Linked DNA regions of Homo sapiens. The protein of the gene in region 2 interacts with the protein of the main gene of each other region in a biochemical or structural test. Each region holds a gene or a part of one and is shown on either strand. Other genes may lie near its edges.

The links. Proteins that work in one complex are often made in the same cells at the same time.
Region 1: the proteins of UBE2G1 (region 2) and TRIM63 form a complex in vitro, tested with the Homo sapiens proteins (one study listed by BioGRID).

What each region holds. Positions count from the first base shown.
Region 1 is NC_000001.11:26,054,000-26,057,749, forward strand, and holds part of TRIM63 (E3 ubiquitin-protein ligase TRIM63), read right to left. Parts: intron 3,652-3,750; coding exon 3,629-3,651; intron 3,329-3,628; coding exon 3,204-3,328; intron 1-3,203. UniProt on the Homo sapiens protein: E3 ubiquitin ligase. Mediates the ubiquitination and subsequent proteasomal degradation of CKM, GMEB1 and HIBADH.
Region 2 is NC_000017.11:4,290,053-4,293,802, forward strand, and holds part of UBE2G1 (ubiquitin-conjugating enzyme E2 G1), read right to left. Parts: intron 1-3,750. UniProt on the Homo sapiens protein: Accepts ubiquitin from the E1 complex and catalyzes its covalent attachment to other proteins. In vitro catalyzes 'Lys-48'-, as well as 'Lys-63'-linked polyubiquitination. May be involved in degradation of muscle-specific proteins.

The DNA of each region.
Region 1 (3,750 bases), on a different chromosome or scaffold from region 2:
GGTTCCTTGAGGAGCTACTTGAAGAGGAACCAGGCAAGAGAGAGCACGGTCTAAACCCCTTCCTGTGCCCAGTCGGGTCAAACGGCCACACAGCGGCGGCAGTGGTCTGGGAGGGGATGGGCTTGCCAGACCCACGCTGCACAGAGGCCCTGCTCCTGCAATCCCCCGCACTCCGTCCCAGGGAGCTGGGCTCAAGTCACTTCCTTGCTCCAGCAACAGCAGCTTCTATCACCTGCTCGCCTGTGACCAGAGAGGGGACTCTGAGGAAGCGCACTCTGTGCTTCTGCACATCTCTCGGGTAGGCAGATAAACATTGCCTGAGGAGGAAAAACCTCCTCGATCCTCAGGGATCAGAGTCCTTGTCTTGAAGGAAGCTACTTAGCCTATGAGATCTGCTTGTTCAGCAGCCACTGTCCCATTTTCCTCATTCCTTAGCCTGTGGAGGGGAGGGGTGGACATGATGGGGAAGCACTTCTGGAGCCACCTCTGCTCCCTGAAGCTGAGCACCAGAGGGACAGTGACTGAGCTGCAACTCATGTCCCCACTTTTTTATCCTGAGATGTCACCGTCAAGCTTTAACAGGGAACATCTCCCTTCCCCGCTCCTCTCCCAAGCTACCTCCTTAACCTTTTGGGGCCCTGAAGGGGTCACCACAGAATCAGAACATTTGTCAAGAGTATCTTCAGGCCAGGCTTGGTCGCTCACACCTGTAATCCCAGCACTTTGGGAGGCTGAGGCGGTCAGATCACCTGAGGTCAGGAGTTCAAGACCTGCCTGGCCAACATGGTAAAACCCTGTCTCTACTAAAAATACAAAAAATTAGCTGGGTGTGGTGGCATGCACCTGTAATCCCAGCTACTTGGGAGGCTGAGGCAGGAGAATCTCTTGAACCCAGGAGGCAAACGTTGCAGTGAGCTGAGATCACACCATTGCACTCCAACCTGGGCGACAAGAGCAAAACTCCGTCTCAAAAAAAAAAAAAAAAAATAGTATCTCCAAAATGACAACCAAAATTCCAGCCAAGTAACTGATATCAGAGTATAACCCAGGGAGTTCTGTTGTTTAATCATTGTCACAATGACTACATTTAATAGCAGTTGCTGAGTACTTACTATGTGCCAAGTAGTGTGCTCAGTGTTGAATCTGCATCGTCTTATAAAATCCTCACAAGAGTTTTGCAAGCCAAATGGCCCTCAGTAGAATCTGCACAGGCTACTTGCCAGCTGTGTGGCCTTGAACAAGTGGCTTACCCTCTCTGAGCTTTAAGTTCCCTCAACTACAAAATAGAGATGGTAACAGAACCTATCCCATGAAGTTGTGTTAAATGATAAAACTTATGTTAAGGGCTTAGCGCCTAGGACATACAGAATATTCAGTAACTGGTGACTGTTGGTACTCTCCTCATTTTACTTGTGGAGAAACTGAGGCTCAGGGAGATTAGGAAGGCCAGTGCAGGACTTCACAATGTTATGTTCACACCGTATGACCCACTCTTGAATATCTATTTCTTTCTTTTTTTTTTTTTTTTGAGATGGAGTTTCACTCCTGTTGCCCAGGCTGGAGTGCAATGGCGTGATCACAGCTCACTGCAACCTCCTCCTCCCGGATTCAAGCAATTCTGCTGCTTCAGCCTCCCGAGTTAGCTGGGATTACAGGCATGCACCACCATGCCCAGCTAATTTTGTATTTTTAGTAGAGACGGGGTTTCTCCGTGTTGGTCAGGCTGGTCTGGAACTCCTGACCTCAGGTGATCCACCTGCCTTGGACCCCCAAAGTGCTGAGATTACAGACGTGAGTCACTGTGCCTGGCTGACCCACTCTTGAATATCTTAGCTTAGGGAAGCTGACAGTGGAGCAGCTCACTACAGCAGTGGATGTCCCCAAGGCCATTGGTGTCTCTGCTTTGGGATGTATTTTGTCCTTACCTATGAATGGGGTATATCTGGGGCTCTGAAAACAGACTTAGCACCAGCTACTGAAGGTTTGTAGGAGAGCGACACAGGAGGTGCCAAGAAGCTCTTCTCTTTCTCACGCCAGCCATTTACAGTTCTTCCTTGTTCCTTCATCATCCCCTTGTCCCCCAACCTCAGCTGGTCATTGGAGCACCACCTCTCAGACCAACGCAACAGTCAGCAATGTGGGATCTGCCCTCTCTTTCTCTGTTGCCTTTTAGCTGTGTTTCCCTTTTAGCTGTGTGACCTTTAGCAAATTAACATATTTGCTTCCATTCAGTTTCTTCATTTCCTTTGTTATTTTCACCCTTATTATTGTTACGGTTGCATTGTTACAATTATTATAGGCACTCTATGGAAGAGTAATTATAAACAGAAATGAGGACATGATGTTGATCAATTAAGGTGCCTGGGTATCATAGGTGATAGCATTAAGAAACTGAAGCTAAGACTACCTTTAGGCAATAACTAGTACATCTTTAGGGCTCTACAGGACCTTTCTGCATTGATATCTGATTTTTTGCAACAGCACCATGAGTTGGTCATTATTAGAGGGCTCACTTCTAACCTGACTTTTTAAATTAGAAAATAAAACTCAGGCAGAAGGGGGCTTGCCAAAGGTCACACAGATAAACAAATGACAGAACCAGGATTTAAACTCAGGACTGTCTGATTCCAGAGGGCATATTATTTCTACTGCCCCAAGAGGCCTCCCTGCCATGGATCCATATGTAATTTATGAAGCAGGAATTCTGCACCAGGCACTGTGCTAGGCTCTGGGCTCATCTAGAAATCGACTATATGAATTTTTTTTTTTTTTTTTTTGAGATGGAGTTTGGCTGGCTCTTTTGCCCAGGCTGGAGTGCAGTGGCACAATCTCGGCTCACTGCAACCTCTACCTCCTGGATTCAAGTGATTCTCCTGCCTCAGCTTCCCAAGTAGCTGGAATTACAGGCACATGCCATCACGCCTGGCTAATTTTTGTATTTTTAGTAGAGATGAGGTTTCACCACGTTGGTCAGGCTGGTCTCAAACTCCTGACCTCAAGTGATCCGCCCACCTTGGCCTCCCAAAGTGCTGGGATTACAGGCATGAGCCACCACAGCCGGCCAGAAGTTGGCTATATGAGTTTGATTGATATTTGGGGATCTTTATTAGTGTATCTGCCTCCCCATCGGGCTCAGTTGGAGGGATGCTGGTTTCCAGGGGTCAGGCAGGCAAATAGACAAGTGGCATCACCACCTCCTTTACCTGTCCCAAAGTCAATGGCTCTCAGGGCGTCTGCTATGTGCTCTAAATCCAAAGTAAAGAAGTCCATGTTCTCAAAGCCCTGCTCTGTCTTCCCCAGCTGGCAGCCCTTGGAAGCTTCCACAATGCTGCAGGGGAGACAGAAAGAGAGGCAGGATGAGGTCTCTGGGGCTCAGTGCAGGGAAGAGAGGGCACATGCTTTGCCACGCCCAGGCCTTCTACCCAGAGGCTCCCCTGGAGGGATGGAGTATTTCCTCTCCAACCTCAAGCACAAGGAGTGGTCCAAAAAGTCAGGGATGCAAAGGGTCAGGGAAGCCAGCCTAGAGTGAGACCCTCCCAGCAGGCCTAATGCCCAGGATGAGGCTTCCTGGACAGAGGTCCTGGTGGGAACTAGGTGCTTGGATCATAGCCTCTAGGAAGACACTGACCTTTTGATGAGTTGCTTGGCAGTCTGCAGGGGGAGAGAGAACAAAGGATTAGGACCGCAGAAGAGGTAACCGCAGGAAATCAGCAAAACTAGTGAACTAGGTGTTGTAGGTAGATATTTGGT
Region 2 (3,750 bases):
TGTATTGACATAACTATTTAAGCAGTTTAGCAAAAAAGTAAAATATTACTTATTCATTAAAAAAAGGTCCTAATCCACTAATTCATTTATACATCATATAAATAATCCCTATTGTGAAACTAATCTTTTATGGTAACATTTACCCACCGTAAATTTTTTTAAAAATCATACTTTGAGGAAGAAATTTTAGAAAGGAATTTGAGTAGTGACAATGTTTATGTATATTTCATTCCTAACTTATCCTATATAGTCTAACAAATTTGTGAATAAATATAATGCTAAATCTTATTTTTCGTTTCATAACATCAGTATTTCTGCTGTTATGAACTCTGGGTAATCAGAATCAAAGTTTGTATCTACCAATCAATATCATTGCTCTCTTAATTCAACAAATTCTTATTTTTTGGTGTTGTCTGTTGTTGCTGTTTTGGTTTTTTGAGACAGGGCCTCACTTTGTCACCCAGGCTGGAGTGTAGTGGTATGATCACAGCTCTATGCAGCCTTGACCTCCCAGGCTCAAACGATCCTCCTGCCTCAGCCCTCCAAGTAGCTGGGACCATGGGCACATGGCATGATGCCTGGCTAACCTGACTTTTTTTTTTTTTTTGGTAGAGATGGGGGTCTCACTATGTTGCCCAGGCTGGTCTCAAACTCCTGGGCTCTAGTGATCCTCCCACCTCAGCCTCCCAAGTAGTTGGGACCATAGGCACATGGCACCATTCCTGGCTTTTTTTTTTTTTTTTTTTGGTAGAGATATAGTCTTACTATATTGCCCAGGCTGGTCCCAAACTGGGATTACAGGAAACAGCCCCTGCGCTGGCCGACAAATACTTTTTCAATGCCTACTGCATGCCAGGCACACATCTGACAGAGAAGTACAGCAGTGAATATATGACAGGCAAGGCCCGTGCCTTCAATGTTTTATGTATGAGGTTTTCTATAATTAAGGTTCCTCTTCCCAACCCATCCCTATCTGCTAGTAAAATCTATTTACTAAAATAGAATCAGGGCCAGAATAACACCGAGGGCCGGGCGTGGTGGCTCACGCCTGTAATCCCAACAGTTTGGGAGGCCGAGGAGGGCAGATCACCTGCGGTCAGGAGTTTGAGGCCAGCCTGGCCAACATGGAGAAATCCCATCTCTACTAAAAATACAAAATTAGCTGGCTGTTGTGGCACATGCCTGTAATCCCAGCTACTTGGGAGGCTGGGGCAGGAGAATTGCTTGAAGCCGGGAGGCAGAGGTTGCCATGAGCCAACATCACACCACTGCAGTCTAGCCTGGGCAACGGGCGAAACTCCATCTCAAAAAAAAAAAAAAAAAAGGAATAACATCAAAACTTGTAACACTACAAAATTCAGCATAAAAATTTCATAGAGTATTACTATTTTACAATGTTTTCTGTACTTACTGTGTAATAAGGATTTTTTCCAAGTCATTTTTCTTTAAAAACATGCTATTAAATATGTGTACAGAATTCTACCACCACTATATAAGATCCATTTTCCTTTTTAAAAAAAATCAAGTTATCACTAATCCAGGATCTTTACATTTTTAACCTTCTCATGTCATTTTAAACATACCATTTATTTTAGAATGAGAAGATTTTTAGGCTTAATACCTATTATCAAACCATATTTTAAAGGATTGTATCAATTTATACTGCCATCAGCAATCTGAGATGGCCATTTCATTGCCTCCTCAGGATGAACATTTTCCTTTATTGATGCTGTTTAAATTTCATATATAACATCTGGTTTAATTCACTTTTCTAAATGCTTTTGGGGTGACAACTTTCCATGGATATAACCTGTATGTCCTTCCTCTTTTGTGAAATGTCTGTTCTTATCCTTTAGCCAGTTATGTACTTAATGTTTACTTTCCTCTTGCCACGGTGTTTCTTAGTTTTCCCCATATAATTTTTGCTTGTTACTTTTTTCTTTCATTTCAGTGTTCATTAGAGATGAAACTAAGCTACCTGGGCCGGGCACAGTGGCTCGGCCCACTGTAATGTATGGCTGGCCTGTAATCCCAGCACTTTGGGAGGCTGAGGCGGGCGGATCACCTGAGGTCGAGACCAGCCTGGCCAACATGGTGAACCCATCTCTAATAAAAATACAAGAATTAGCCGGGCTTGGTGGCACGCACCTGTAATCCCAGCTACTCGGGAGGCTGAGGCAGGTGAATTGCTTGAACCTGGGAGGCGGAGGTTGCAGTGAGCCACTGCACTCCAGCCTGGGCGACAGAGTGAGACTCTGTCTCAAAAAAAAAAAAAAAAAAACCCAAACCAAAACCAAACAAACAAAACTAAGCTGCCTAAACAATGCATATACTTCTAGCTACCTCCTTTTTCTTGAGGCCATGCACCTAAAATTCTGAAAAACTGATTTACCCTCATCTTCTCTATTTACTTACTACTCAGGTATTCCTTTATTCTCCTAGAAACTGGCTTCTCCCTAGCAGGATGCTACAACTGTGTCCACAAGTGGTCTGGATAGCATATTTATTCTCCTGGGTACTTTCAGCTACCTGAAGTCACCCCTCTGGGCCAAGACAACTAATACTGTGACAACACTTTGCTGGATACATTTTCCTCCCCTGGCATCTGTGGTACTCTTGTTTTCCCCTGGTTCTTGAACATTCTCTCAGTCACTTTCTAGTTTTCATTTTCCTTAATTTGACTTTTGATGTTATCCTAATCTCCAACATTAACTATATTTTCCGTAGGAAAACTAACCCATTCATTATCATGTTATCTATCATCCTGATACAGTAACTTCCAAGGCCCTTAAGCTCATTGCTGAACCCTGGACTGGTTTAACTAATTATCTAACTGGGTGTAGCAAGTATACCTCAAGAAAAGCTGAATATATGTAAGGTCAGTCACATAAAACTATTCCCCTATAATAATTTTATAACATCTCTATAACTCACCTACTATACAATTCACCTATTTGAAAAGCACGATTTAATGGTTTCTGTCTAGTATGTCTACAGAGTTGTACAATCAATACCACAATCAATTTTAGAGTATTTTTTCACCCTACAATGAAACGCAGTACCAGTTAGCAACCATTCCTCAATCCCCCCCACCTCCCCTCCAGCAGTAGGGAACCACTAACCTACTTTCGGTCTCTATGGATTTGTCTATTCTTGACATTTCATATAAAGGGAATCGTACACTATGTCACCTTTTACGACTGACTTTGTTCACTTAATATAATGTTTCCAAGGTTCATCTATGTTGTAGCAAGTATCACTACTTCATTTCTTTCTTTTCTTTAGAAAACAATATCATGTAATTCATTTCTTTTTATTGCCAAATAATATTCCGTTATATGGGTCCACATTTTGTTTTTCTATTTATCAGCTGATAGACATTTGGGCTGTTTCTACTTTTTGGCTGTTATGAATAATAAATGCTGCTGTGAACACTCGTGTTCGAGTTTTTCTGGACATGTGTTTCAGTTTTCTTGGTTAGGTTCCTAGGATGGAAGTGCAGGGTCCTATGGTAACTATGCTTAACCTTTTGAGGACTGCCAGGCTCTTCTCCAAACACCCGCACCATTTACCTTCTTGCCAGTAGTGCATGGGAGTTCTAATTTCTCTACTTCCTCATTGACATTTGTTATTATCTTTTTGATTATAGGAATCCTAGTGGGTAAAAAGTGGTATTTCATTATGGTTTTCACTCTATAATTATTTTTGTAAATGGCCAGTCAATCCTAAACTCTTACTTCTCCTTTACCA